Homo sapiens: one gene and its partners. The protein of the gene in region 1 purifies or fractionates together with the protein of each later gene. This does not show direct contact. Each region holds a gene or a part of one and is shown in the gene's direction. Other genes may lie near its edges.

Evidence for each region.
Region 2: the proteins of TNFSF18 (region 1) and PEX13 purify together in Homo sapiens (affinity purification with mass spectrometry; one large-scale study listed by BioGRID and IntAct). This does not show direct contact.
Region 3: the proteins of TNFSF18 (region 1) and S1PR2 purify together in Homo sapiens (affinity purification with mass spectrometry; one large-scale study listed by BioGRID and IntAct). This does not show direct contact.
Region 4: the proteins of TNFSF18 (region 1) and SCARB1 purify together in Homo sapiens (affinity purification with mass spectrometry; one large-scale study listed by BioGRID and IntAct). This does not show direct contact.
Region 5: the proteins of TNFSF18 (region 1) and RTN2 purify together in Homo sapiens (affinity purification with mass spectrometry; one large-scale study listed by BioGRID and IntAct). This does not show direct contact.
Region 6: the proteins of TNFSF18 (region 1) and SLC47A1 purify together in Homo sapiens (affinity purification with mass spectrometry; one large-scale study listed by BioGRID and IntAct). This does not show direct contact.
Region 7: the proteins of TNFSF18 (region 1) and TMEM120A purify together in Homo sapiens (affinity purification with mass spectrometry; one large-scale study listed by BioGRID and IntAct). This does not show direct contact.

The regions. Positions count from the first base shown.
Region 1 is NC_000001.11:173,043,965-173,048,041, reverse strand, and holds part of TNFSF18 (tumor necrosis factor ligand superfamily member 18), read left to right. Parts: intron 1-4,072; coding exon 4,073-4,077. UniProt on the Homo sapiens protein: Cytokine that binds to TNFRSF18/AITR/GITR. Regulates T-cell responses. Can function as costimulator and lower the threshold for T-cell activation and T-cell proliferation. Important for interactions between activated T-lymphocytes and endothelial cells.
Region 2 is NC_000002.12:61,023,971-61,028,047, forward strand, and holds part of PEX13 (peroxisome biogenesis factor 13), read left to right. Parts: intron 1-4,077. UniProt on the Homo sapiens protein: Component of the PEX13-PEX14 docking complex, a translocon channel that specifically mediates the import of peroxisomal cargo proteins bound to PEX5 receptor.
Region 3 is NC_000019.10:10,224,516-10,228,592, reverse strand, and holds part of S1PR2 (sphingosine 1-phosphate receptor 2), read left to right. Parts: intron 1-3,645; 5' UTR 3,646-3,687; coding exon 3,688-4,077. UniProt on the Homo sapiens protein: Receptor for the lysosphingolipid sphingosine 1-phosphate (S1P). S1P is a bioactive lysophospholipid that elicits diverse physiological effects on most types of cells and tissues.
Region 4 is NC_000012.12:124,808,209-124,812,285, reverse strand, and holds part of SCARB1 (scavenger receptor class B member 1), read left to right. Parts: intron 1-320; coding exon 321-416; intron 417-1,996; coding exon 1,997-2,112; intron 2,113-4,077. UniProt on the Homo sapiens protein: Receptor for different ligands such as phospholipids, cholesterol ester, lipoproteins, phosphatidylserine and apoptotic cells. Receptor for HDL, mediating selective uptake of cholesteryl ether and HDL-dependent cholesterol efflux.
Region 5 is NC_000019.10:45,486,921-45,490,997, reverse strand, and holds part of RTN2 (reticulon-2), read left to right. Parts: intron 1-1,444; coding exon 1,445-1,652; intron 1,653-2,011; coding exon 2,012-2,150; intron 2,151-2,291; coding exon 2,292-2,361; intron 2,362-2,480; coding exon 2,481-2,527; intron 2,528-4,077. UniProt on the Homo sapiens protein: Inhibits amyloid precursor protein processing, probably by blocking BACE1 activity. Enhances trafficking of the glutamate transporter SLC1A1/EAAC1 from the endoplasmic reticulum to the cell surface.
Region 6 is NC_000017.11:19,550,772-19,554,848, forward strand, and holds part of SLC47A1 (multidrug and toxin extrusion protein 1), read left to right. Parts: intron 1-652; coding exon 653-697; intron 698-4,077.
Region 7 is NC_000007.14:75,988,724-75,991,932, reverse strand, and holds part of TMEM120A (transmembrane protein 120A), read left to right. Parts: intron 1-2,708; coding exon 2,709-2,768; intron 2,769-3,209. UniProt on the Homo sapiens protein: Multifunctional protein involved in mechanosensation, and plays an essential role in lipid metabolism and adipocyte differentiation. May function as a potential ion channel involved in sensing mechanical stimuli.

The DNA.
Region 1 (4,077 bases):
TTAATGAGACAGTAGAGTATCTGACATAAAGTAGCTCCCAGTAGAGGGGAGTGATTAATATTTGCCCCATTACTATTAATGAGATAATAATGGGCAAAAATTTAACAAGACCATTTAACAATATGGATAGTCTTTGCCTACCTATATCACTCTCTCAATCAAACACTATATCTCAGAGCCAAATTTATGATTTTGCAATTAGATGGATTTTTAGTGGTGGCAATAATTAGAGAGTATCACAGTGATGGTCTCTGTAGCGCTAAATAGACATAAAGCAGCCTGCAGTATATTATACGGAATTTCTGACTCTGGAAATTAGTTTGGACTTAGGTTGTCTATAGCTTAGGTTTCTCTGAGCACATCTCATACATGCTAGTAGATGGTGCAGATACTATCTGTGGCACGTATTTTGGCACTCATTCATATTTAGATTGTTACCAAATTGCTTTGGGTGTGTAATCATGTCTTTCTAGAAAGATTATAAACTTCTTGAGAAGCAAGGACCAAAAATTACATTTGTTTCTCATGCTTACAATGCTGTACAATGTTGGAAATATGGATGCTTAAATTGTAGTTCAATTCTTCATTACAATCACCATCATCACCCAAACAGCTAATATTTATTGAACAGGTCCAGGCAGGATATCTAGGCAAAGCCCTTATTAAAAACGACCTCATTTAACCCCAACAACTTCAACAAGCTAGGTGCTATTATTTCTCCCATTTTATAGATGAGGAAATTGGGGTTAAGGGAGTCTTTGTCACGTCCCTATCATGGGTTGAACTAAATTGAATTTCAACATCTCCTCCAGGAAACACCAAAATGAGGATGAAATAATTGCAAGAGGCCAGGCACAGTGGCTCACGCCTATAATCCCAGCACTTTGGGAGGCTGAGGCGGGTAGATTGCTTGAGGTCAAGAGTTTGAGACCAGCCTGGGCAACATGGCAAAACCCTGTCTCTACAAAAAAATACAAAAAAAATAGCTGGGCTTGGTGGCATGCACCTGTAGTCCCAGCTACTCAGGGGGCTGACGTGGGAGAATTGGTTGAGTCCAGGAGGATGAGGCTGTAGTGAACTGAGATAACACCACTGCACTCCAGCCTGGGCAACGGAATGAGACCCTGTCTCAAAAAACAACAACAACAACAACAACAACAAAAAAAAACAAGTGTAGGGAATCAAAAAATTTATTTCCTAGAATAGTGGCTTTCAGACTTTTTAATTGCACCTCCCTTTCAATAACATATTATCAGTATAATTCCCAACATTTGTATGCTAATTATTATACTATATACAAGTACTAATAATATGTACACTAAAGAGATACACAAAATATATATTTATAAGGGTGAGCCAAATAATATATTCAATGTAACTCTCACAATGCAAAACCATTTTGCTTTCACCAAAATGTTATATTTTCTATAATCATTAATATGTCATAAACATTACTAAAATAAGTAAAATATTTTAATAACGTGGTGAATGCATTTATTTTATTTTTTAATCTGAGCTTAACACTATGTGATACAGCAATTTGAAGTTTGATATGTTAATTTACCTTGTTTCATGATTTTGACCATCATGACTGAAAAATTACCCGACAAACAAATATAGATTAAAATGGAAGAACACATCTTTGGATATTCTTATCATGTCATACCACTTAATTTTCAATCCATCATTCAATGATGGATGCCTCTCTTTCCTTCCTTCCACAACTAAATTCCAAGATCTATAGCTTTAACACCTCCCTCGCATAAACTCACTCACTTGCTTCTCTCTATCTTCATTATACTCTAATGACAAAAGCTCGACTATGGAAAACCTCCAATGCTGATTAAATCCAACTGCTCTGTCTCTTTCACTGTTGAATATATCTGAAGAAAAACATAAAATTTTTTGAAAGGTCTTACTTTAAATTCACAGCCACTGCCTTCAAGTGGATTTCATTGTTGCTCTGGAAACAGCCCATGTTTCCCCAGTCCATTCACTCTCCTCTACTGGATGATTTCATACCTTTAGCTTCTCTTCAAACATCTAATAACTCTTCCCCATTCTCACTCTCCACTGATAACGTTGCCTCCATATTTTAAGAGAAAATAGAAGTACGGAGGAAAGAAGTTCCAATATCAACAACTCATTGGCATTTGTGTCCAGGTATACTGTTATTCTGTCTTGTCACTATGGATAAATTGTCCATGCATCTATCCAAGCCATCTATGAACTAAATCTTATCCTCTCTTGCCTACTCAGGGACATTGCTGCAACAGTTCTCTCCTCGCTCTTACATATTATGCCTCATCCATTTTACAGAAACATTTCCATCAAATGGAAATAGAAAAACGTGTTGTCATTTCTCTCACATTAAAACGTAACAACAACAACAACAACAACAACAACAAAAAACCTCTTTGATCTCTCATCCTCATCCAAACTCCACTCATTTTTTTCTGCTCTCCCTACAGCAAAATTCCTCCAACTTCTCTTGTCCCATTTACCCTTAAATTTATTTTAACTAAGCTTCTGCCCTCTTCACATATCACAGAAACTAATTTTGTCAAGAACTCCAGTGACTACCATGTTGCTCAATCTATCAGTCAATTCACTGTACTCTTCTTACTTGATCTATCAACAGCATTTGACACCAGCTGATCACTCGTCCTTCATGAAATACTTTCTTTTCTTGGCTTCCAAACATCAGACTCTCCTAGTTTCCTTTCAGACTCAGCTTTTCCTTTCTATTGTCCCTTGCTTGTTCTTTCTCATTCTCCGACCTCTAAACATCACAACGCCCCAGTGTTCCTCTCCATCTACACCCACTAACATGATGGCCTCATACAATCTCACAGCTTAAAACATCAACTATGAGCTTAAGACTCTTAAATGTATATCACCAGAGCTCCTTAAATTTCAGCCTGCTTGACACACTTACTTGGATTTATAATAAGCATCACAAACTAATATGTCCACAACCAAACTCATCATTGTTCCCCTCCCCATTTATTCCTCTTACATCTTATCCATTTTAGTGAATAACAACTTTATCTTTCCAATTATGCAGGCCTAAAATACTGGAGTCATCTTTGTTTCTTCTCATTCCCTACCCCATATCCATGTCAGGAACTTCTGTTGGCTCTATTTTCCAACCAAGTATCACCATCTACAGAGCTAGCACCTTGGTCAGAGACACCATGCTCTCTTGCCTAGATGAATGACTGTAATGATCTCTTAGCTAGTCTCACTACATTTGCCCTTGCCTCTGTTTAATTTGTTCCTAGCATAGCAGCCAGAGAAATCCTACAAAAGGAAAGTGTGCAACACGTTTAAGTTCAAAAAGTCTTTTAAGCACTTTGCCATTAGGAAACCAATAACCTTTGGGTGATACAAAAAATGTTTGTGGTTATGCCTGAATTTACTACAACGTATTTTTGAGCATTTAGCATTAACTACTTGTGTTTGTAAAATTAACCACACACTGATGGCATCTTGTAGCATGTGAACTGCCGTACATTGCAGTAGTCTGAAACTTGGAACTGTTTTTCAGGGTATCTCAGATACTGTATATGACATGTAGTTATCTGAATATTATACATGGGTGGTTTCATCAATCTGAGTTGTAAATATTTCTAGGGCTTAATTTACTGTTTTAAATAAAATAAACATAAATAGAAGCTTCACTATTTTCCTTTCACATGCCAACAGATCACCTTGTGCAGTCACTGGGGTGTGGAAACTGCTATTTTGTTGAAAAACTTTTAGAGCCCAAGGTTGGGGGGGGGGTCCGATATCAAATAGTTGTCCTGTAGGTATAGATTAGGTAATGGAATGAGATCTTGACCTTTGTCTAAAAGACCTAAAAGGGAAGCTAGGTAATAAAAGGTAAAGGATGGAGCCACTCAACTTTAAAGGGAGGCTGAGAGGGCTGAGACATGGTGAAGGGAAGGATTTTTTTTATGGTTATAGAACACTAGTTTGCTTCAGGAATTCAAAGCTCTAAATAAATCAATCAAAAAAATTAATGACACTGTCATCATCCTAATCAATTCATCTTTTATTTCCCCAACAGACTGC
Region 2 (4,077 bases), on another chromosome or scaffold:
ATTTTTTGTAGAGATGGGTTTTTACCATGTTGCCAAGGCCGATCTTAAATTCCTGGGCTCAAGTGATCTTCCCACCTAGGTCTCCCAAAGTGCTGGGATTACAGGCATGAGCCACCACTCCCTCACCATCTCTGTCTTATTCTTTGCTCCTTTAAAAAGAATCTTACCCCACCCCTGATCTGGTTGCTTTCAATATTTTTTCTCTGTTTTAGTTTTCAGCAGTTTGCTTTGTTAGGCCTCAGTGTGGTCTTCTTTGTATTATCCTGGGTGGAATTCACAGGGATACTTGAATCTGACTTTGATGCCTCTTATTAATTCCAGAAAACTTTAAGCCATTATTTCTTTAAATATGGTTTCTATCTATTGTCACTTTACTCCTTTAACTCAACTTGCATATATACCCCATATGTCACTATACTCCCTGTATCTTACTCTCTTTTCTGTATTTATCCTTCTGTTTCTTATGCTTCATTCTGGGTATTTTCTTCCCATCTCTTTCCTAGTTCACTGATATTTTTCTTTCACTGTGTCTAATCTGGTATTAAACCAGTCATTGAGGCCGGGTGCAGTGGCTCATGCCTGTAATCCCAGCACTTTGGGAGGCCGAGGCGCGTGGATCACGAGGTCAGGAGATCGAGACCATCCTGGCTAACATGGTGAAGCCCCGTCTCTACTGAAAATACAAAAAATTAGCTGGGCGTGGTGGTGGGCGCCTGTAGTCCCAGCTACTCAGGAGGCTGAGGCCGGAGAATGGTATGAACCCAGGAGGCTGAGCTTGCAGTGAGCCGAGATCACGCCACTGCAGTCCAGCCTGGGCAACAGAGTGAGACTCCATCTAAGAACAAAAACAAAAACAAAAAAAACAGTCATTGAGTTCATAATTTCAGGTTTGGTTTGGTGTTGTTTTTAGTTGTAGAATCTTCATTTGGTCCTGCTTTATATTATAGTTCCTATTTTCTTTTGGAAAATCCCAATCTTGCCTTTTTTATTTGAATATATTCAACACAGTTGTTTAAAGTTTCTGCCTAATAAGTCTATAATAACTCTATTATCTAGATCCCCTTTGGAGCTCTTTGTATTATCTGAAGTTTCTTTTTTTGTTTGTTTGTTTTGTTTTTGAGACAGTCTCACTCTGTTGCCCAGGCTGGAGTGCAGTGGCGTGATCTCGGCTCATTGCAACCTCTGCCACCCAGGTTCAAGCAATTCTCCTGCCTGAGCCTCCCCCGTAGCTGGGATTACAGGCACCTGCCACTGCACCCAGCTAATTTTTTATAGTTTTTAATAGAGACGGGGTTTCACCATCTTGGCCAGGCTGGTCTTGAACTCCTGACCTCATGATCCACCCATAATTTTGTTATGTAAGCCCTATCATTATTATTATTATTATCATTATTATTATTATTATTAAGACAGAGTCTTGCTCTGTTGCCCAGGCTGGAGTGCAGTGGTACAATCTCGGCTCACTACAACCCCTGTCACCCAGGTTCGAGTGATTCTTGTGCTTCAGCCACCTGAGTAGCTGGGATTACAGGCATTCGCCACCACACCTGGCTAATTTTTGTATTTTTAGTAGAGACAGGGTTTCGCCATGCTGGACAGGCTGGTCTCAAACTCTTGGATTCAAGTGACCCACCTGCCTCAGCCTCCCAAAGTGCTGGGATTATAGGAGTGAGCCACCATGCCCAGCCAAGCCCGTTTATTTTTTAATGAGAGCTGCACATTGTATATAGACAGTTTAATGTGATTTGAGGCCTAAGGATATCTTTCTCTAAAGACTTTTCCTTTTGACCAGAATGTTAGGCCACTAACAATCTAGAATCACTTTAATCCAATAAAGGATTGAGCTGATTTAAAACTTGGTTTTCATTCCTGCCAGGTAGTCCATTTCCTGTTAACCTTTTCACCCTTTCTACTAGCATATTTCCCTTTTTAAGGTCCCAATCTGAAGTGTGAGGGTTCCCTATGGCTTTCCTCTTTAGGGTTCTGAACTCCAGTTTATGGCTCCTTAGCCCAGGGAGTCTTAAAATCTCTGCCCAGCTTCTCATCCTGTCAACCATCTCTTCTGGAATTGGCCCTGGTTTCTAGAGAAACGCCTGAAAAGATCTGGCTCTCTGGGTTTTTTTTTTCCTCCTTGATTTTGTCTCCAGAATTCTTCGGTGCCTCGTTCTCTAATGCTTTAAACAGAATTCCTTCCTATTTCCTTCCCTTCTAGTTCATTGGGAGGGTTAATCTAATTACCTCGACAACCATTACTTAAAATAGAATTCCCAAGTTCTGTATTTCCATTCTGCTCCTTAGTGTACAGCAGCTAATTTTCTTCTTGACCGGTAGTTGAAAAACGGTTCCAGTGGCTGTGGCCACCTTTTCTTTTTTCTTTTTTTTTTTTTTTTTTGAGACGGAGTCTCACTCTGTCGCCCAGGCCGGAGTGCAGTGGTGCTATCTCGGCTCACCTCAACCTCTGTCCGCTTCCCAGGTTCAAGCAATTCTCTGCCTCAGCCACCCGAGGAGCTGAGATTACAGGCGCCCACCACCACGCGTGGCTAATTTTTGTATTTTTAGTAGAGACAGTATTTCACCATCTTGGCCAGGCTGGTCTTGAACTCCTGACATTGTGATCCACCCACCTCAGCCTCCCAAAGTGCTGGGATTGCAGACATGAGCCACCACGCCTGGCCTGTGGCCACCTTTTCTAAGATTTCTAATGGAATTTTTAAAATATTTAAATGTTTTTATTTAATTTCAATTTTTATTTCACAGATATTATTTCATTTCTCTCTCTGATAATTTTTAACATATCTAAAATCATTCCTGAGCTGTTATATAAAATTAGTTTTTTTAAATTGGGTTTTATACTTGCTGATTTTTGTTGGCTTTGTTTCTTAGTGTTTTTATTTCTTCATGTGTGTGGCATTTTTGAGATGGTCATTTTGAGTAGTAATTTTGGAGTTCTGTTTTCTCTCCTTTCCCTCTTCCATGTTCCCCTCTCTCTATCTAATAGGTGTCCTGTTGCCTCTCCCTGTTCCCTCTACCTACCACTTAGGTAAGAATCAGGTGTAAAAACAGTGGGTCAGACTGGGCATGGTGGCTCACACCTGTAATCTTAGCTCTTTGGGAGGCCAAGGCAGGAGGATTGCTTGAGCCCAGGAGTTGGAAACCAGCCTCTCAAGATGTAGCGAGAACCCATTTCTACAAAAAATATCAAAAAGAAAAAAAAAAAAAAAGGCAGGCATGGTGGTGCACGCCTGTAGTCCCAGCTACTTGGGAAGCTGAGGTGGGAGGGATCGCTTGAGCCTAGGAGTTTGAGGTTGCAGTGAGCCGTGATTGCACCACTGAACTCCAGCTTGGGTGACAGAGTGAGACTCTGTCTCAAAAAAAAAAAAAACAAAACACACACACACACACAAAAACAGCGAGTTAGATTAAGGATATCACACATCAAGTCGGTCAGTTGTTTCATTTCCTGGGCTGGAGGCCTTATCACAGTCCTCTCCCTCTCTTAGTTCTGTAACTTTCTCAAAATATTAAACTGTCATCAGCAAATTTTATAATCTCTTTGTAGGAGTCAAGGTGGCACATCCTCATTCCCAGCCTCAAGCATTGAACTGGTTCCATTTTAATGGAGCACTTTTCGTTTTTGTTACTTCATTGAAGCCTGCATCTTGGCTGTCACTGCCTGATTACAGAACCAGAATTGAGTAGGCCCGTAGCTTCAGCCCTCCTTACCATTTTACATTTCTGTTTAGTTTCTCTTCCATAAGTCTGTCTTGTGTTAAATCTAGATAATGTCTGTTTGTTTGTCTCTCTGTTTTCTCTATTATTGCTTATACTTGGGAGCAGAACTGTTTCATTAAAGCCTGAATGCACTGCACTATCTGGCCGTTCACTGGCTCCTTTTAAGTTTTGTTCCATTTTTAAATATCAGATCCAATAAAAGAAAAAAAAATAGAGTTCTAGTAGCTTGTTTATAATATTACGATACAAGTCTAAATTAAAACTTTAGCCTGGATTAGAAAATTACCATTTTGCAGTTCCACATCTAATATTTGTTTCAGGCAAGGATGATGAATCGATGCTAAA
Region 3 (4,077 bases), on another chromosome or scaffold:
CCCTGCTTCCTCTTTCTGGGAGGCGTCAACCGCCCAAGTGCTTGCCTCAGTAAAGTCCTAGTGGTTAAGATGAGTCTTGGATAGAATGTGGGCCTCAGTTTCCCCTTCTCTAGGAGAGCTGCTTCTCCCTCTGTGAATGCCTTAGCCTCCCCGGGCTGCAGAAGGTGAGAGTGCAGCACCCCCAGTCTTCCTCTCAGGGAAAAAGACAGACTGCTTAGTTAGTCCCTGGGGTGCAAGGGCTGAACACATTTCATTTTGTTTTGTTTTGTTTTGTTTTGTTTTGAGACAGTCTCGCTCTGTCACCCAGGCTGGAGTGCAATGGCTGCGATCTTGGCTCACTGCAACCTCTGCCTCCCGGGTTCAAGCGATTCTCCTGCTTCAGTCTCCCAAGTAGCTGGGATCACAGGCGCACACCACCATGCCCGGCTAATTTTTTTTTTTTTTTTTTTTTTTTGAGTAGAGGGGGGTTTTACCATGTTGGCCAGGCTGGTCTTGAACTCATGATCTCAGGTGATAGGCCCGCCTCGGCTTCCCAGAGTGCTGGGATTACAGGCATGAGCCACTGCGCCCGGCCTAAACACATTTCTTATTTATCCAGGAAGCCACAGCAAATCTCTTGGTGAGCAGCAGAGGGGGCGGCTGCACTGCACAGCGTGCTCCCCAGGCCTGGAAAGGGACCTTGATTCTCACTTATGAACCCCAGGAGGGGCCCAGCAGGCCAGGGCAGCCTGGGGGTGTCTGGTCGGGGTGACCCAGAGGTCAGGCTGCGGTTCAAACTCCCCCTAGGGACGTCCACATAGCATTAACTCTATCCTCAGAAAGCCTGAGCTCCCGTCGCCTATAAAGGACCCCATCGGTAGGGCTGGCCGTAGAGCGCCCCCAACTGGACCAATCAGAGGCAGAAGATGGAAAGCCCGGGCCAATAGGCAAATTGCTCAGTGCCCTTGGATTGAAAATGAGCCAATCAGAGCATGGGCTGTTTCCGGCCCATCAGCTGTGTCTGATCCAGCCGCAGCCTGGGCCCAAGCCTGCCTGGGACTGGCTGCAGCGTGCAGAGGGCATCAAGATGCCCGGGGCTGCGTCCAGCAAGGGAACAAGGGGCCTCTGTGTGGCTATCTGGGAGGGGCAGCAGTCCCCGGGGACGTGCACAAGCCCTTGTCTGTTCCCAAACTAGGACGGATGTCCCTCCGCCCTGGGGGAGCAGCTGCCTCTATCCAGCCAGGGGCCAGGATGCCCCTTGGAGGGGGCGGCCAGGGACTGAGATGGCTGGGTGACTCCGGAAACCTCCATCACTCCTGGGCTCAGGAGAACTGGCCTAACCAGACTTTTCTGGAACGGTGCACACAGTCCTTGCCAGACGTGTTTCTAGGGACCTGAGGAGGACTCCCCCTACTCTCCCCCCTCCCTCCCATTTAGCTAAGGCTGGAACTTCCTCTCCCTTCATGAAAGGCATACACTGCACTGGCGCCTCTGACAACCCCTAACCCTACCCCCAAGCTGGGGGAAGGCCATGGTGTCTGCCTCTCATCCTCTCTGCCGAGGAGCGCCTCTCCCCGCCCCCTCCCACCACGGCTCAGTTTTCCTTGGTGGGTGGCGATGGGGGGGGATGGGAGGGGGTAGAGGGAGGGATGGAAGAGGGTGGAGGGGAGGGATGGGAGGGGGTTGGGGGGGTGACTCAGGTTTTCATGGAACAAATGCCTTACCCCCTCCCGGCGGGGCTGCACACCCCTTCACGGCTCACATGACTTCAGCAAAGCTGCCCCATCCTCCCAGCCAGGACCTCCCAGATGGGGTCTCTCCCATCCTGACTCCCCCTACATCCCGCCTTCCTCACACCGGATGTGACTGCAGAGTGAGGACTCCACCCTGTTTGTTCCAGGGGCCTCACATCTGGATTTCATCCTGGCTGGGGAGGGGGTGCCAGCGCCCTGCCCATCCCGGCAGGACCTTCTGTCCCAGGGCAGAGCTAGATGGTGCTGATGAGAACAGGCTGTTGGAGATCTCGTCTGGTTGGCTTACATCCCTTCCCTTCCCAAAGGACTGGAGGAAAGAGGGGAGCTAATAACATTTGGCAGTATTTGTTGAGTGCTTACTATGAGCTAAACGTGCCTCATGCGTCATTTAAAAGGATTTTCCCATCACCCCCATGAAGTGGGCTTTCTTCTCTCTATTGCACAGATAAGGAGGTTCAGGCTGAGACAGCGTCTAGGGACTTGCCCAGTGTTTCAGAGGTGGAATGGGAGCAAATTCTGGATTGCCTTCAAGGTCTGTGTCCTTGAAGATGGTGTGACCTCTGGGATGTTTGAATCTCAGGGCCGCCCTGGTGTCTCCCCAAGACCTTATCTTGGGAGCACCCGTGGCCTCAAGGCTTAGACCCAGCCTGAAATCCAGCGTTAGTGGGTGGTAATGAATGAGCAGGGCACGGAGCTATCAGTGGTGAGACTCTCCCTGACCCAGGTCAGCATGAGGGCGCAGGCGCCTGTGTGTTCCAGAAAAGAGACAAACCCTCCAGGACCTGCCTAGGGCTTGCTCTCTGGGTAGGTGGGCAAGGTTTCTGGAAGTCCACATTATATTTTTCATGCCATTTGGGGGAGCTTCTTTCCCTTTGAAAGCGTGTAGCTACTCAGGAGACTGAGGCAGGAGGATCACTTGAGCCCAGGAGTAGAGACAACTGTGAGCTATGATCATGCCACTGCACTCCAGCCTGGGTGACAGAGCAAGACCCTATCTCTAGAAAATAATAATGAAAATTAAAAGAGGCAAGATGTCATGGTTCATACCTGTAATCTCATTGCTTTGAGAGGCCGAGGAGAATTGCTTGAAGCCAGGAGTTCAGGACCAGCCTGGACAACACAGTGAGACCCAATCTCTAAAAAACAAAAAAACTAGCCAGGCGGCTGGGCCCGGTGGCTCACACTGGTAATCCCAGCGCTTTGAGAGGCCGAGGCAGGCGGATCATGAGGTCAGAAGTTCGAGACCATGCTGGCCAACATGGTGAAACCCTGTCTCTACTAAAAATAAAAAAAAAATTAGCTGGGCCTGGTGGCAGGTGCCCGTAATCCCAGCTACTCAGGAAGCTGAGGCAGGAGAATCACTTGAACCCAGGAGGAGGAGGTTGCAGTGAGCCAAGACCGTGCCGCAGCACTCCAGCCTTGGCAACAGAGGGAGACTCCATCTCAAAAAAAAAAAAAAAAAAAAAAAATTAGCCAGGCGTGGTGGCATGTGCTTGTAGCTGAAGCTGAGGTGGGAGGCTGAGGTGGGAGGATCACTTGAGCCCAGGAGTTCAAGGCTGCAGGGAGCTATGATTGCGCCACTGCACTCCAGCCTGAATGACAGAGCAAGACCTTGTCTTTAAAATATAGATAAATAAAATAAATAAGAAAGAGCGTAGCCTAGGGCTTATAGAGGCCGCAGAGCCAGTCTCTCTGGCCCTGCCGCTGGTTAAATTTGAGACTTTAGGAAAGTGAATTAATCTCTCTGGGTTTCCCGTCTGTAAGTGGGGATGATGATGATTCTGAATTCATGTGGCCCTTCCTCGAAGAGTAACAGAGCAGGAAATTGAATCTCAGCCCATCCGAGGCCAGAGCCCAGGTAGCAGCCACAGCTCTGACCTATTGTCTGTCTGTCTGTCTGTCTTCTCTGCAGTTCTGAAAGCCCCATGGCCCCAGCAGGCCTCTGAGCCCCACCATGGGCAGCTTGTACTCGGAGTACCTGAACCCCAACAAGGTCCAGGAACACTATAATTATACCAAGGAGACGCTGGAAACGCAGGAGACGACCTCCCGCCAGGTGGCCTCGGCCTTCATCGTCATCCTCTGTTGCGCCATTGTGGTGGAAAACCTTCTGGTGCTCATTGCGGTGGCCCGAAACAGCAAGTTCCACTCGGCAATGTACCTGTTTCTGGGCAACCTGGCCGCCTCCGATCTACTGGCAGGCGTGGCCTTCGTAGCCAATACCTTGCTCTCTGGCTCTGTCACGCTGAGGCTGACGCCTGTGCAGTGGTTTGCCCGGGAGGGCTCTGCCTTCATCACGCTCTCGGCCTCTGTCTTCAGCCTCCTGGCCATCGCCATTGAGCGC
Region 4 (4,077 bases), on another chromosome or scaffold:
TGACCTGGCCATGCTTTATTTTATGCTGGAGTAGGGTGTGGTGGGGGTGATCTGCCATTTACCTGGGAGGAAAGCCAGACTCTCCTGGAGTTAGGAAGGGAGGGTGGAACACTGCAGCCACAGAACCCGGGACCATTCCTCCTAGAAAGCTCCCAAGCCTCCTCTCGGTCCCCAGACACTGGGCATTTGGCAGTGAACCAGATGCTGGGGGCCCTGTCCTTCTGGTGGAGGGGGAGGAGGGCTCAGCCCAGAATGTTCAGACCAGGCCGGCTCAATGGCAGGCCTAAGCCTTACGATGCTGTTCCCTGCTGTGTCTGTAGCTCAACAACTCCGACTCTGGGCTCTTCACGGTGTTCACGGGGGTCCAGAACATCAGCAGGATCCACCTCGTGGACAAGTGGAACGGGCTGAGCAAGGTGAGGGGCGAGAGGCGAGGGCCCCTGTCGCCAGGGAGAGGGGAGGGTGGGCCCGGCCATGGCTGCTCGGGAGTGGCAGGGACCAGAGAGCTCCTTCTTCCTTTGTCGTGAAGAGGGTGCTGGGAGGATGAACACTCTTGAAGTTGGAGGAGGGATTTTACCTCTGGTTAAAGCTTGACCACCCAGAGGGGCAGGTGGGGTTAGTGATTGCTTACTGAGCTTACTGAGCACCTGGCATCTGCTGGGAACTGAGTGCTTTCTTCCTTTCGATTCTTTACTTACAAAAATGTTTTGAAGGCCGGGCGTGGTAGTTCATGCCTGTAATCCCAGCACTTTGGGAGGCCGAGGTGGGGGGGATCACCTGAGGTCAGGAGTTCGAGACCAGCCAGGCCAACATGGCAAAACCCTGTCTCTACTAAAATACAAAAAATTAGCTGGGTGTGGTGTTGCATGCCTGTAATCCCAGCTACTCATGAGCTGAGGCAGGAGAATCGCTTGAACACAGGAGGTGAAGGTTGCAGTGAGCTGAGATCACGCAATTTCACTTCAGCCTGGGTGAGAAGAGTGAAACTCGGTCTCCAAAAAAAAGAGAAGAGATTCACATTACAAAATAAAACAAGAGAGGGAGATAAGTGCCCTTAGTATCACCTCCCACCCCTACCCCTTGCCCCAGAGGAAACCCACAATTATCAGTTTGGGATATATTCTTCCCATCCATTTTTACCCATGTGCACACCTATATGTACGCAGAGAAATACGGAATTGTTTCTTCTTTGAACATCATGAAATCATACTACGTGCATTGTTTTGCAACTGGCTTTTTTCACCTTCGTGACCTTTTCTCAATATGTGTGAAAATGACTGTGTGACTTCCCACTCCCCACTCCCCGTGGTAGTTACTGCAAAGACCCTGAGGGCTAGGGACAAATCGTACCCCAACCGGTGCCCAGAGTGGCAAAAATCACCATCTGCAACTGGCAGTAGCCATTCACGATAGATGGAGTTCACATTCATTGTGGCTTGTATATTCCAATATACTGTACATGTGCACGTGATTTTAAACATCCTCATCATACAGAAGATTGGAAAGTGAGCAGTTGGTTTTGTCGAGTCTGGGTCTCGCTCCCCAGAGTCAGTTAACCTGACAGGTTCTGTTTTGGGGTTGCCCGGTGGTGGCCACCATTATGATTTTAAGTAGTTTGCCTGTGTGCCGATTGTTTTCAGGAGGTGCCTGTTGACTTCCGCTCTGAGGGCTGAGCACAGCCGCGCCCCACCTCTCACCTCACCTGCTCACCACACTTCTTTTCCAGATTCAGGCTGGAAATGTGGGTGATAGGCCTATTTTGCAGATGAAAGAACTGAGTCCCTAGCGAAGTTACACATTCAGGGGTCTGGGAGGGGGAAGCTGTGGTAGGCATTCTCTCTGTGTGTCTACATAGCCTGCCCTCTTCCCACCGTGCCAGTATTGGGAATTGAGTGGCCGTGCGTGCACCAGGGTGAGTTAGGTGTGCAGCACCTGAGAGGGCTTATTAAGGGGCCTTGGCCCTACTGAGGGGTCTAGTCTGGATGCTTCCCCCCAGGTTGACTTCTGGCATTCCGATCAGTGCAACATGATCAATGGAACTTCTGGGCAAATGTGGCCGCCCTTCATGACTCCTGAGTCCTCGCTGGAGTTCTACAGCCCGGAGGCCTGCCGGTAATCACTGGGACTCGGGGCCTCCTGGGTTTCCTGGGTAGCTCATGGCCAAATTCTGTGGTGTTGGCTGTGCACTTGGAAAGCATTTTGACTCATCGTGGATTTGACTCAGTAGCCCTTGGCACCAGCTTGAATTCTCTTTGGTCACACCACCAAAAGCCAAACTCCAGCTGCCAATGCCTCTACACAGCCCAAAGAGAGGCTGCTGGTGGTGGTTTGCAGCCAGGTGGTGCTGGGCTGGGAGGAGGGGGCAGGACATGTCAAGTCACAGGGGGCCATAAAATGGAGGCGAGAGGTGGGCTCCCTCTGGCGTCTGGCTGGTGGCCCCCATGACCATCTGGGTGCTGAGACATCAGCTGGCTCTGCTTGGCCCCTTCAGGCTCAGCTCTGTGTCCCATGGTCCCAGTTGTGGGGTAAGAGTAGACAGTGGGTGGCTCCTACAGCCCTTTTCTGGAGGCCTTGCTGTGTCGTGTTCCATTCTGGTCACTCTGGAAAAGTCCTTTACTTAGGAATTCACTCATGTGGACCTTGACTTATCTGCCCTCCCAGCAAACCCTGTGAAGCCCTACTGTGTGCCAGGTGCCCGGTAGTGAGAGGGTGGGCCAAGTCTCCGTTCCCCAGGAGGCTGTGTCCTATCAGGGCAACTCAGGCAAATGCACAAACACTAGAGTGTCAGAGAGTGACAGTGCTTTTGCTCTGTGTGGCCACTTTTTACTATTTTAAGTTTTTACTTATTTATTTATTTAATTTTTTAGAGATGGGGATCTCGCTATGTTGCCCAGGCTAGTCTTGAACTCCTAGCCTCAAGGGATCTTCCTGCTTCAGCCTCCCAAAGTGCTGGGATTGCAGGTGTGAGCTACTGTACCCAGCTGACTTTAAAAGCTGAATTTTAAACTTAAAGAAAAGTTGCATGAGAAATACAAGTGGCCCCCGTCTCCCCTTCACCCAGGTTCACTAGCCGTGTTAAGCCCCCCACCCCCTCTTCTCGCCGAGTGTCTTTTTCCAGAACCATCGGAGAGTAGGTTGGAGGCTGTATGCCCCCTTACCTCCAAATACTCAGTGGGTGTTTTTCAGAAACGAGGACATTTTCTTACATAACCATAATGCTGTTATCAAAATGAGAAAATTTGGCATTGACATAATACTGTTATCTAAGCTGGCACTTTCCTATAAATCAAAATATGCAAGGCACACATGCAATTTAAAATTTTTTAGTGGCTGCATTAATACAAGTAACAAGAAATTGGTGAAATTATTTTTAATAATGTATTTTATTTGACCTCATATATCAAAAATGGGATCATTTCAAGTGTTATTGATGAGGTTTTTTTTTTGTTTTTTTTGCTAGCAAGTATTAGAAATCTGGAATGTATTTTATACTTGCATCCCAATTTGGACTCACCCCATGTCAAGGGCGGGATGGACAGCCATGCGTGCTGAGTGGCTGCCGTGGACAGAGTGGGTAGCACAGTGCATGTTCAAGTTCAGAAGTGCTTTTGAGAAAGTACAGGAGCATGAATGGATGGAGGGTGGATGGGGTGGGTGTGGGGGACGGTGCTGCCACCCGAGGAAGTGACAGCTGAACTGAGATCTGACTGAAGGGCTGAAGTCTGGTGGATGAAGATGCCAGAGGAGACTGTTCTTAGGCAGAGGGAGCAGTGATGCAAAGGGCCTGGGGCAGGAGTGAGTGTGCTTAGGAACTGCAGGGAGGCCCTGGGCACAGGAAGTTGGGGCAGGGCTGAGCAGAGCTTATGCAGGGGCTAGATAAGGTCAATGAATCCTAATGGTAGGTTAGACTAGAAAGGGTCACAGATTTTCAGCAGGGGCATGATATATTCTGTTCTTTTTTTAATTTCATAACTTTCAAAAACAATTTTATTTTTAGAGACTGGGTCTCACTATGTTCCCCAGGCTGGTCTCACACTCCTGGGCTCAAGTGATCCTCCCACCTCGGCCTCCCAAAGT
Region 5 (4,077 bases), on another chromosome or scaffold:
GGAGAATCGCTTGAACCCGGGAGGTGGAGGTTGCAGTGAGCCGAGATTGCACAATTGCACTCCAGCCTGGGCAACAAGAGCGAAACTCTGTCTCAAAAAAAAAAACAAACAAACAAACCAAGGTCAGGCGTGGTGTCTCACGCTTGTAATCCCAACACTTTGGGAGGCCGAGGTGGGAGGATTACTTGAGGTCAGGAGTTCGAGACCAGCCTGGCCAACATGGTGAAACCCCATCTCTACCAAAATATAAAAAATTAGCCGGGTGTGGTGGAGCCCTCCTGTAATCTCAGCTACTCAGGAGGCTGAGGCAGGAGAATTGCTTGAACCCAGGAAGCGGAGGTTGCAGTGAGCCAAGATTGTGCCATTGCACTCCAGCCTAGGCAATAGAGCGAGAATCCGTCTCAAAAAAAATAAAAACAAAAACAAAACACACACACACACACACACACACACACACACACAGACACACAACCAGTCCACCCAGCAATTCCACCCTGGGAATCTGTCTCAGAAATAGTCACTCCAGGAGGTGAGAATATCTGTTGGAGGATGTTGCTTGCAGCCCTGCTTGCGGTGAAGGGGTTAGGAAACAAACTGAATGACCCAGCAATAGGTACATGGTTAAATAAAATGAATGAGAGCACAGGAGCACAGCCACAACACAGAATACTATGCAGCTCTTTAAAATAATGAATTAAGGCCAGGCGCGGTAGCACATGCCTGTAATCCCAGCACTTTGGGAGGCCAAGGCGGGTGGACCACGAGGTCAGGAGTTCGAGACCAGCCTGACCAACATGGTGAAACCCCGTCTCTACTAAAAATACAAAAATTAGCCGGGAATGGTGGCACATGCCTGTAATCCCAGCTACTTAGAAGGCTGAGGCAGGAGAATCGCTTGAACCAGGGAGGCGGAGGTTGCAGTGAGTCGTGATTGCGCCACTGCACTCCAGCCTGGGCAATAGAGAAAAAAATAAAAATAAAATAAAATAATTTTTAAAAAATTGCAAATCGGGCTGTGTGCTGTGCCTCACACGTATAATCCCAGCACTTTGGAGGGCTGATGCAGGAGGATAACTTGAGGCCAGGAGTTCGAGACTAGCCTGGGCAACACAGTGAGAGCCACCTACCTCTAAAAACAGAAACAAAAACAAAAATTAGCTGAGTGGTGGTGCACACCTGTAGTCCCAGCTACTGAGGAGGCTGACGTGGGAGGATCACTTGAGCCCAGGAGATCGAGGCTGCAGTGAGCTATGATTGCACCACTGCCTCCAGCCTGGGTGACAGAGTGAGACCCTGTCTCTCAAAAAAAAAAAAAAAAAAAGGAAATCAGGTTATGCTCAAACAGGTGTGTCGAGAAGTCATTTTCAGCTGTAGGACAGGGAAAGGGAGGTGAGGAGACCAGCCAGGTCAGGTACAAGCCCTGATGCCCCCCACCCCTCCACAGTGGCGGACCTGCTGTACTGGAAGGACACGAGGACGTCAGGAGTGGTCTTCACAGGCCTGATGGTCTCCCTCCTCTGCCTCCTGCACTTTAGCATCGTGTCCGTGGCCGCGCACTTGGCTCTGTTGCTGCTCTGCGGCACCATCTCTCTCAGGGTTTACCGCAAAGTGCTGCAGGCCGTGCACCGGGGGGATGGAGCCAACCCTTTCCAGTGAGAACCCCCGGCCCCTGACCTGAGCCCCTGTCCTGACCCTAAAGCATGACCCACGACCTCAAATCAGGCACCGACTCCCACCCGGACCCCGACTCATCTTGATCATTTTTCATCCCGATCCCCTAACCTACCCTTCAATCCTAATCTCTGATCCTAACCTGGTACCCTTCATCCTCGATCCCTTCCCCTGACCCTGACCCTGACCCCAGCCCTCTACATATGATTCCTCTGAGCTGCCCCTCAGTCCTAACTCTGGTCTTCTCCCAACCGCCATTCCTCTCCCTTGTTTCAGCTGCCCCTGCACCAGTCTGAGCTGGTCACCCACTGAGTCGCCCCACACTCCTTTGTCCCCGCAGGGCCTACCTGGATGTGGACCTCACCCTGACTCGGGAGCAGACGGAACGTTTGTCCCACCAGATCACCTCCCGCGTGGTCTCGGCGGCCACGCAGCTGCGGCACTTCTTCCTGGTAGAAGACCTCGTGGATTCCCTCAAGGTGGCCTGGAGCTCTCAGCCCCTCCTGGGTTCCCCCATTCACCTCTGCATGGCTAGGGGGTGGGAGGGCGACTGTTGGGTAAATTCACAGCATGAGAGGGAATTCCCGGTGGGCTCTGCTGACCCTGACCTTCACCCCCAGCTGGCCCTCCTCTTCTACATCTTGACCTTCGTGGGTGCCATCTTCAATGGTTTGACTCTTCTCATTCTGGGTGAGCTGGGAAGGCCGTAAGGGGCAAATGGGGACTTGGAGTCTGGTGGGGGACAGGGCTCCAGATGGAACTGTTCATCTCTTGGGAACACCCTGACGCCCCCATCTCTGTACCCACAGGAGTGATTGGTCTATTCACCATCCCCCTGCTGTACCGGCAGCACCAGGTGAGTGTGACACCCTCAGTTGTCAGCACCCCAGCTAAACATGGGGGTCTGACCATCTCCTTCCAGAACCGGGGTCCCATTGACAGATGTCCCGGCCAGACACAGGTGTCCTGGCTGCAGCACCTTCCCAATACAACCAGAGTCTAAGTAACATGTCTTATCAGCATCAGCCAGGGACAGGCTTTTTGTTTGTTTTTGTTTTGTTTTGGGTTTTCTTTGAGACAGAGTCTTGCTCTGTTGCCCAGGCTGGAGTGCAGTGGTGTGATCTCGGCTCACTGCAACCTCCGTTTCCTGGGCTCAAGCAAGTCTCCTGCCTCAATCTCTGAGTAGCTGGGATTACAGGCATATGGCCACCGTGCCCGGCTAATTTTTGTATTTTTAGCAGAGACGGAGTTTTGCCATGCTGGCCAGGCTGGTCTCAAACTCCTAACCTCAAGTGATCTGCCCACCTTGGCCTCCCAAAGTGCTGGGATTACAGGCGTGAGCCACTGTGCCTAGCCTTTGCTGCCTTTTTTTTTTTTTTTTTTTGAGATGGAGTCTCGCTCTGTTGCCCAGACTGGAGTGCAGTGGCACGATCTTGGCTCACTGCAGCCTCTGCCTCCCAGGTTCAAGCGATTCTCCTGCCTCAGCTTCCCGAGTAGCTGGGATCACAGGTGCCTGCCACCATGCCTGGCTAATTTTTTGTATTTTTAGTAGAGACCGGGTTTCACCATGCTGGCCAGGCTGGTCTCCAACTCCCGACCTCAGGTGATCTGCCCGCGTTGGCCTCCCAAAGTGCTGAGATTGGCCTTCACTCTTGATTTTAACTGACATGTCAGTTAAATGCTACTGCATTCCAGCCTGGGTGACAGAGCAAGAGTCTGTCTCAAAAAAAAAAAAAAAAAAAACCAAAAAATAAAAAATAAAAACATAAAAATAAAATCAAGAGTGGGATGGCTGTTGCCCACAAGACTGACATTAGCAGGACTGCTGACATCCATCCTATCCAGAGACAGGCGGATGGACTGACAGCCCCTTCTCCAGCACAGCTGGGAGCCACATGATAATATGCCCTGCCAGTTAGTCCTAACTCTGTCCTTCACAGGCTGGAATCACCAAGACTCACAATTAAACTGTATTTAAATCAGGCCAGGCACAGTGGCTCACAACTGTAATCCCGGCACTTTGGGAGGTTGAGACAGGAGAATTGCTTGAGGCCAGAAGTTCAAGACCAGCCTCGGCAACATAGTAAGACCCCCATCTCTACAAAAAGGTTAAAAACTAGCCAGGTGTGGTGGCACACACCTATAGTCCCAGTTACTCTGAAAGCTGAAGCAAGAGGATGAGTTGAACCCTAGGAGGTAGAGGCTGCAGTGAGCTGTGATCATGCCACTGCACTCCAGCCTGGGCAACAGAGCAAGACCCTATCTAAAAAAAAAAAAAAAAAAAAAAAAAAAAAGGCTGGGCATGGTGGCTCACGCTTGTGATCCCAGCTTTGGGAGGCTGAGGCAGGCGGATCACTTGAGGTCAGGAGTTCGAGACCAGCCTGGCCAACATGGTAAAACCCTGTC
Region 6 (4,077 bases), on another chromosome or scaffold:
TTGGTGTCCTCTGCGGCCTCTCTCCTTGGCCTGTGGACGGCCACCCTCTGCAGGTTGTCCCCTGTGCATTCATCCCCCGGTATCCCCTGTCTTCTTATGAGGACACGAGTCCTATTGGATTAGGGCCCCACCCTAATGACCTCATTTTAATTTAATCTCCCCTTGAGGACCTCCAAATAGTCACACTGGGGACTAGGGCTTCAACATACGGATCTAGGGACACCATTTGCCCTCAGAATTGGCAGTGTGCTCGCTTACTTATCCTGAAACCTTGTAAATGTGACAGTCTTTCATGATTCCACCACATAGGACCAGTCTATATGGAGGTGCCCATCTGGAGTGTGCCTGGGGCCTCCTTTCCATGCCAGTGTCCCCAGAAGAGTCCTGGCCATTCACCCAGGGAAACTCCACCTCCTTTTGCCAGATGGAGGGAATATGCTTGGGGCATATGCACCCATAAAGAAGATGTGGGAAGCCCCTGGGCCATAACACCCTGGCCCCAGCCCTGTCCTGAGACGACAGCCTCTGTGGCTCCGTGCGGGAGCAGAGGGCAGCCGAACCTTGGCTGTGGCTCCTAGCTCCCTGCCGTGTGACCTCACTTCTGTGTGGCAAGGCTGAAACATTAACATTCATCTCTCTTGTTCTCTTGTAGGCAACCTTTCTTTATATGTTACAAGTTAAATATTTGCTCAACCAGGTAATACTGACTGTTCTCTTCCTTTGGGAGGCTAATGGGAGTTTGTACCTTTCTGGGAATGGGGGCCCTGAAGATACTCCAGGACCAGGGACCCCAGGGTGGAGGGAGCTCACTGCTGGGAGCCACTGAAAGATATTTTTTCAGTGTTGTGCACACAGAACTTGGATGTCAAGAGGTTTGTTAAGTGATGTCAAGGAAAGAACATATTATATTTGGCTCTGGAAAACTCTTATCCAATTCCCACTTGGAAATATTGTCATTGGCAGGGTGGGCTCAGAGCCGCAGTGTTCCTTGGCTCTGCATTTTAACCAGCGTCCTGGAAAGAAGGGTGCATGCCCATTTGCTCCTAAGACAGAGCGCAGGCTGGGGGCAGCTCGTCTGGCAGAGAGGGAACCAAACTGTCTGCTCTGTTCTGTCGGAATGGCCCCACTTTTCTCATTGAGGATGTAAGAGCTCAAACTCTAATGACACCTAACGTCAGCCAGAACTCCTCCTCTGTGATTAAACAGTCAGGGCCAAAGGCCATGGCTTGGTAGGGGTGGATTTATGAAATCAGCATATGTGGGACTCTCTACATTCTTCCAGATAAGTCCAGGTAAACAGGGGTACTCGGCAATGGATCCCGGCCACACTGGCGGGCTCTCCAGGCATGTGCAACAGGAAGGGCCAGGAGGGGAGGAGGAAGAAAGGAAGTTTCCCACCTATGCAGTGTTCTTAAAGTTAAGATATTCCTCTATTAGAACAAAATTTTTAAAGTAGATATGGGGTCTTGCTATGTTGCCCAGGCTGGTTTCAAACTTCTGGCCTCAAGCAATCCTCCTGCCTCAGTCTCCAAAAGTGCTGGACTTACAGGTGTGAGCCACTGCATCCGGCCAGGATATTACTCTATCAACAAAACAAGAATATTTAGAATCCCGATTAGCATAGAATGACATATCAGAAATAGGTGTAGACTAGAGAGAAGGAAACCCACACATTTCATCCGGCTTTGGGCTGTCTCCTTTTGATCTAGACCCTTGCTAAGGCAGCATGGATGCCTTAGCACCCTGCAAGGCCTTCTCCTGGACTCAGTCCCCCAACCACTGTGGTGGCCCTAACCTCAGGGTCTGATGTGACCTGCTGAGGACAATGAGTGTGAAAGTCTTCTTTCCTGTTCTCTGGGGCACAGGGAAAGGCATGGAAGTAGGAGCCACGAGCTGAGAGGGGTTGGGAGCTTTGAACTTGGTTACAGAGGACACGTGGAGTTTCCAAGGTTGGGAAGGAAGGCAGGGGATCCTAGACAGAGGTGCAGCAGAGCCTGTTCCTAGGGGCTGGGGCCCGCAGAGTCTCTTTACGCCACTGCGGTGGGAGGGGATGCAGTGAGATGATGGCATCGAGAGGCGGGCTGGCCCAGGGTCAGCGTGCGCAGGGCCTTGTGTTCTCTGCTGGGGCATTTAGTTTTGGGAAATTAACTAATTGGGAGAGGAAGAGGGGAGAGTTATGGACATGATCCAAACAAATAATGGTGAAGGTCTGTGATGAAGAGTTTGCGTTGTGGGAGCAGTGGGAGATACGATGATGGGTGGGTTCTGTAGAAATGGCAGGGGTTGTTGGGCCCCCAGGGTGGAAGGAGTTTCTGTCCTGGGGCCCTTCCCTAGGAAGACAGGGCAACCATTAGCTGAGTGTAGAACCAAAGAGAAGCAGCTGGGAGTTTGGAGAAAGTGAATGCCCTCGGAGAGGGTGGAGGGTGGGAACAGAGCCAGATGGTATCGGGGGAAGGGAGACTTTCAAGTAGGAGAGTCAAGAGGGCTTTGGAGGAGAAGGTGACTCCACTGGACATGGAGACGCATGCGTGTTGCAGGCTTGGCCACCTCTTCTCGTTCTCCCACGAGCCTGCTCCTCTGCCTTCCATTCCATCGCAATGGGTGGAATTCCGTGGCCTCAGCCATTTTTGCTCCCAGTAACCTGTCCTTTTTGTCCCTGTCACATCCTCGACTCCATCTTTCCTTCCCTCCCACATCTGGTCAGTCACCTGGTCCTATAGCTTCTGCCTCCTCCCAATCCTCCATGCCACCACCTGAATTCATTTCTTTCTTCCTTTTTTTTTTTTTTTTTTGAGATGGAGTCTCTGTTGCCCAGGCTAGAGTGCAGTGACGTGACCTCGGCTCACTGCAACCTCCACCTCCGAGGTTCAAGCGATTCTCCTGCCTCAGCCTCCCAAGTAGCTGGGACTACAGGCGCGTGCCACCACGCCCAGCTAGTTTTTGTATTTTTAGTAGAGATGGGGTTTTACCATGTTGGCCAGGCTAGTCTCAAACTCCTGACCTCAGGTGATCCACTCGCCTTGGCCTCCCAAAGTGCTGGGATTACAGGCGTGACCCACCGTGCCCAGCCCTGAATTCATTTCTTGCCATTTGTCCTCTGTGTCATTTCAGAGGACCTTAACCTGTCTCCATCCACTGCCATCTGCCTGAAAAGTAAATCTGATCACTAATTCCCTTGCTACAAACTAACCAGGGCCTCCCCATAAATATGTGGCCTACACAAGTTGTCGGCCAAGACCATTGTCCTGGCCCCATCAGCCTGAGACCACCAGAGACAGGACTGTAGGCCAGTGGGTTTGCAGTTGTGTTTATTGGCCTGTCGCAGTGAGAGAGACTAGAGAGGCTGTGGGATGCCTCAGCAAAGGAAGAAGAGTTATTATAAAGGTTTGAAGAAGGGTGGGGTTCAGGTGACATTTAAGCGAAATCATGGTTTGATAGGCGCTGAGCAGATCTGTGAGTGAGGGGCCCAACATCAGGCCTGGGCTGTGACGTGGACCTGGTGCTCCTCCTTTGGAAACTCAAGGCTAAGAAGGATGTTGAGGGTGGACAGATGTAAAATGCCACATCCAGGAGCTCCCACGAAGCTCTGTGCCTGGGTTGGAAATTGAGGCTACTTTTTTGTGTTAACATGATTTTGAGCCTCCACGCGAGAGTGGGGTGTTTTCTTTTTACTGAAATGATTTCAAACAGCAATGTTTCTGAACAGTCTGATTTTAGACAACAAAGTTTCTCAGTGAGTCAGAAAGCACTCGTCATTCCACTAGGGGAGTAATGACACTTTATGGGGACAGCGTGACCTTGGGAGAAAGGAGGTTTCCTTTTACGTTTGCACTGACTTTATCTGCGTCTGCTATTCTATCCGGATGCGGGGCAGGACAGAGTTTTACTTCCTTGGTCTGATGTAATTTTACTTTCACCCCTGTCTTACTTTGAGACACCAAACAGTCTGGATGTTTCACCAGTCCTGTACTTTTGAAAGTTAGATATGTTGGAATCCCTTCCGTATTCTAGAAAGAAACTCTAGTTTCTTCAAGATCTTAGGTCAATTTTCTGAATTTCTATTTTGGTGAAGAAAGT
Region 7 (3,209 bases), on another chromosome or scaffold:
GTGAGGGACACCTGACCCAGTCCAGGAGGTCGCAGAAGGCTTCCTGGATTAGGGGATGGGTGGGCTGAGTCTTACAGAATAAAGAGTGGGCCGGGCGTGGTGGCTCTCACCTGTAATCTCAGCACTCTGGGAGATGGAGGTGGGAGGATCACTTGAACTCAGGAGTTCAAGACCAGCCTGGGTGACATACTGAGACCCTATGTCTCTATTTATTTAAAAAGAACAAATAGGCTGGGCGCGGTGGCTCATGCCTGTAATCCCAGCACTTTTTTGGGAAGCCAAGGCAGATCGCTTGAGGTCGGGAGTTCAAGACCCGCCTGGGCAACATGGTAAAACCCATCTCTACTAAAAATACAAAAATTAGCCGGGCATTGTGGCATGCACCTGTAATCCCAGCTACTTGGGAGGCTGAGACAGGAGAATCACTTGAACCCGGGAGGCGGAGGCTGCAGTGAGCTGAGATCGCACCACCGGACTGTAGCCTGGGCAACAGAGTGAGACTCTGTCTTAAAAAATAAATAAGTAAATAAATAAAAAAAATGAGGCAGACACATGGGCTGAGGGCGAGAGGTAGCAGCAGGTGGACGGGCCATGAGAACTTGTAGTGGCCAGAGGTCGGGGCGGGAGGTGAGAGGCAGCCAAGAGATCAGAGGCTTTGCTGGGCTGCAGCTCTTGCCTTGAGCCCAGTAGGCGGGCGGGGGCGGTGGAATGTGCACCTGGAAAGGCCAGCAGCTGTCACCCAGGAGGACGGATGGGGCAGTGCAAAACCCCCTGCTGAGCAAAAAATCCCAGCAGAGGCTGCAGGCAGGGAGATAGCTGGGAGAGGGCGTGGCCCAGAAGGCAGGGAGAAGAAAGGAGTGTCCGTAGCCTGGGGTCAGTCCTGTGATAAGGAAGGGGATGCGCTTCCTGGAAGTTGGGTCATCTTGGCAGAACCATTTGGTGGAAGGGGATGGATGTCGATCTTGGGGATGACAGAAGAGCCAAGGAAGGGAGACAGCCAAGTCTAGGAGACTTTTTTTTTTTTTTTTTTTTTTTGAGACAGAGTCTCACTCTGTCGCTAGGCTGGAGTGCAGTCACTTGATCTCGGCTCACTGCAACCTCTGTCTCCGTGGTTCAAGCGATTCTCCTGCCTCAGCCTCCGGAGTAGCTGGGATTACAGGTGCCCGCCACCACACCCGGCTAATTTTTGTATTTTTGTATTTTGTATTTTTAGTAGAGATGGGGTTTCACCATGTTGGTCAGGCTGGTCTCGATCTTCTGACCTCATGATCCACCCGCCTCGGCCTCCCAAAGTGCTGGGATTACAGGTGTGAGCCACCGCACCCAGCCCTCTGGGAGACTTTTTAGAGCTTGGCTGTGAGTGGAGGGAGAGAATTAGCAACTAGGAACTGGAAATTAGCACTGGGTTGAGGGGCAGCTACTGCCTGTTTGTGGGGTTACTTTGCCTCTGGGAAGACTCGAGCACATCCACCTGCTGAGAAGAGGGGCCGAGAGGGGAAAGACCCAGGAGAAGGGCAGGAGGTGATGGAGGGAAGCCTGGGGAGAGCGAGAAGGGCTAGTGGGGGATGGAGGGTGCAGAGATGAGAGTGAGGAGTGCTCCCGGCACAGTGCTCCTGGCATAGTGCTCCCCATAGAGCAGGAGTCAGGCTGTCTTCTCTGCAGTGTTGCAGGTGGGGCCCGAGGTGGGAGGAGACAGGGTAGAGGGTTTCGGGGAGAGGATGTGGAGAGGCGAGTGCTGGGAACCAGATGGCGAGCTGAGTGGGGACACATCCGCAGCCTGGTGGGTTGGCAGTGGAGGCTGAAGCTGGCCTGCTTGGGGAGCACTGTGCCGGGAGCATTCTGTAGAGGGAGAAGCATGGCTGTCCCAGAAGTTCTTTGTGGCCTTGGGGCAAATTGCCTAACCATGCTGAGCCTCTGTCTGTTTGGCTTGAGTGTGAACAAGAGCCCATGTGTCTGGGGCAGGTGCTGAGAAAGTGACCGTGACTTTGCTGTCACCTCTTGGAGTATCTCTGGCAGAGAAGGGCAAGATGATCTCAGTTGGTGGGTGTGGAGGCTGGACATGAAGGGGATTGGCAAAAAAGTGGTGTAATTGGCGGGTGGCCTGGGGACTCAGCCAGCTCTGATGAGATCTGGGACTGGAGAGCGTGGGGGCCTCGGTGAGGGACAAGGGGGGTCGTGGTGGGAAGAAACGCCCCGGGAGGCTGAGTACTTGGGGTCAGCCCACAGTCAGAGCTCTGAGTTTCTGTTCTGGTTTGGGAGGTCGTCCTAGATGTGGCCAGGCGTGTGGGTCTCTGAAGTGGAACCTAGTACTGCAGGTTCTGGAGGGGAGGTGGCAGGGAGCTGGGGGGTAGGTGGTGGCCATCGCACAGGGGAGCAATCGGGGACAGGGGGACGGCCCTCAGCAGGGAGGGAGAGCCGGGTTCTCTTGGTGCCCTGAGGTGGGGGAGTTTCAGACAAGACTCTGGAGATGGGGGGGAACACTGTTTCCTCCGGGGGTCAGGATTCCGGAGCAGGCGGCCAGGAAGGCTGGGCATGGCAGGGAGTGGGTCTGCAGCCTCCAAGGTCAGAACCCGATGCCAAGGCCCTGCGGAAAGCAGCGGGTGAGGGGGTGGGGTGGTGGCCCAGGCTCTGGCCTGGCAGGCTTGGCTGAGTACCGGTGGCTTGTCTGTCACTCGGGCTTCTCCTCACCCCGCCACCCCCTTCCCTAGATTGTACCTGAGCCTGGTTCTGGGGAACGTCAACGTCACGCTCCTGAGCAAGCAGGCTAAGTAATCAGGCCGAGCCTCCACCCCCCAACCTCCACCCCTCCACCCCTAGCCCCCTACCCCCCTCCCCCCCTCAACCTCCACCCCTCCACCCAGCCTTCCCCCGGAACCCGGCCTTCCCCTCCACCCCCCAACCCGGCCTTCCCCTCCACCCCCCACCCCACCCGGCCTTCCCCTCCACCCCCCACCCCACCCGGCCTTCCCCTCCACCCCCCCACCCGGCCTTCCCCTCCACACACCCACCCGGCCTTCCCCTCCACACACCCACCCGGCCTTCCCCTCCACACACCCACCCGGCCTTCCCCTCCACACCCCCTCCCCGCCTTCCCCTCCACACCCCCTCCCCGCCTTCCCCTCCACCCCCCCACCCGGCCTTCCCCTCCAGCCCCCCACCCGGCCTTCTTCCCCTCCAGCCCCCCACCTGGCCTTCCCCTCCAGCCCCCC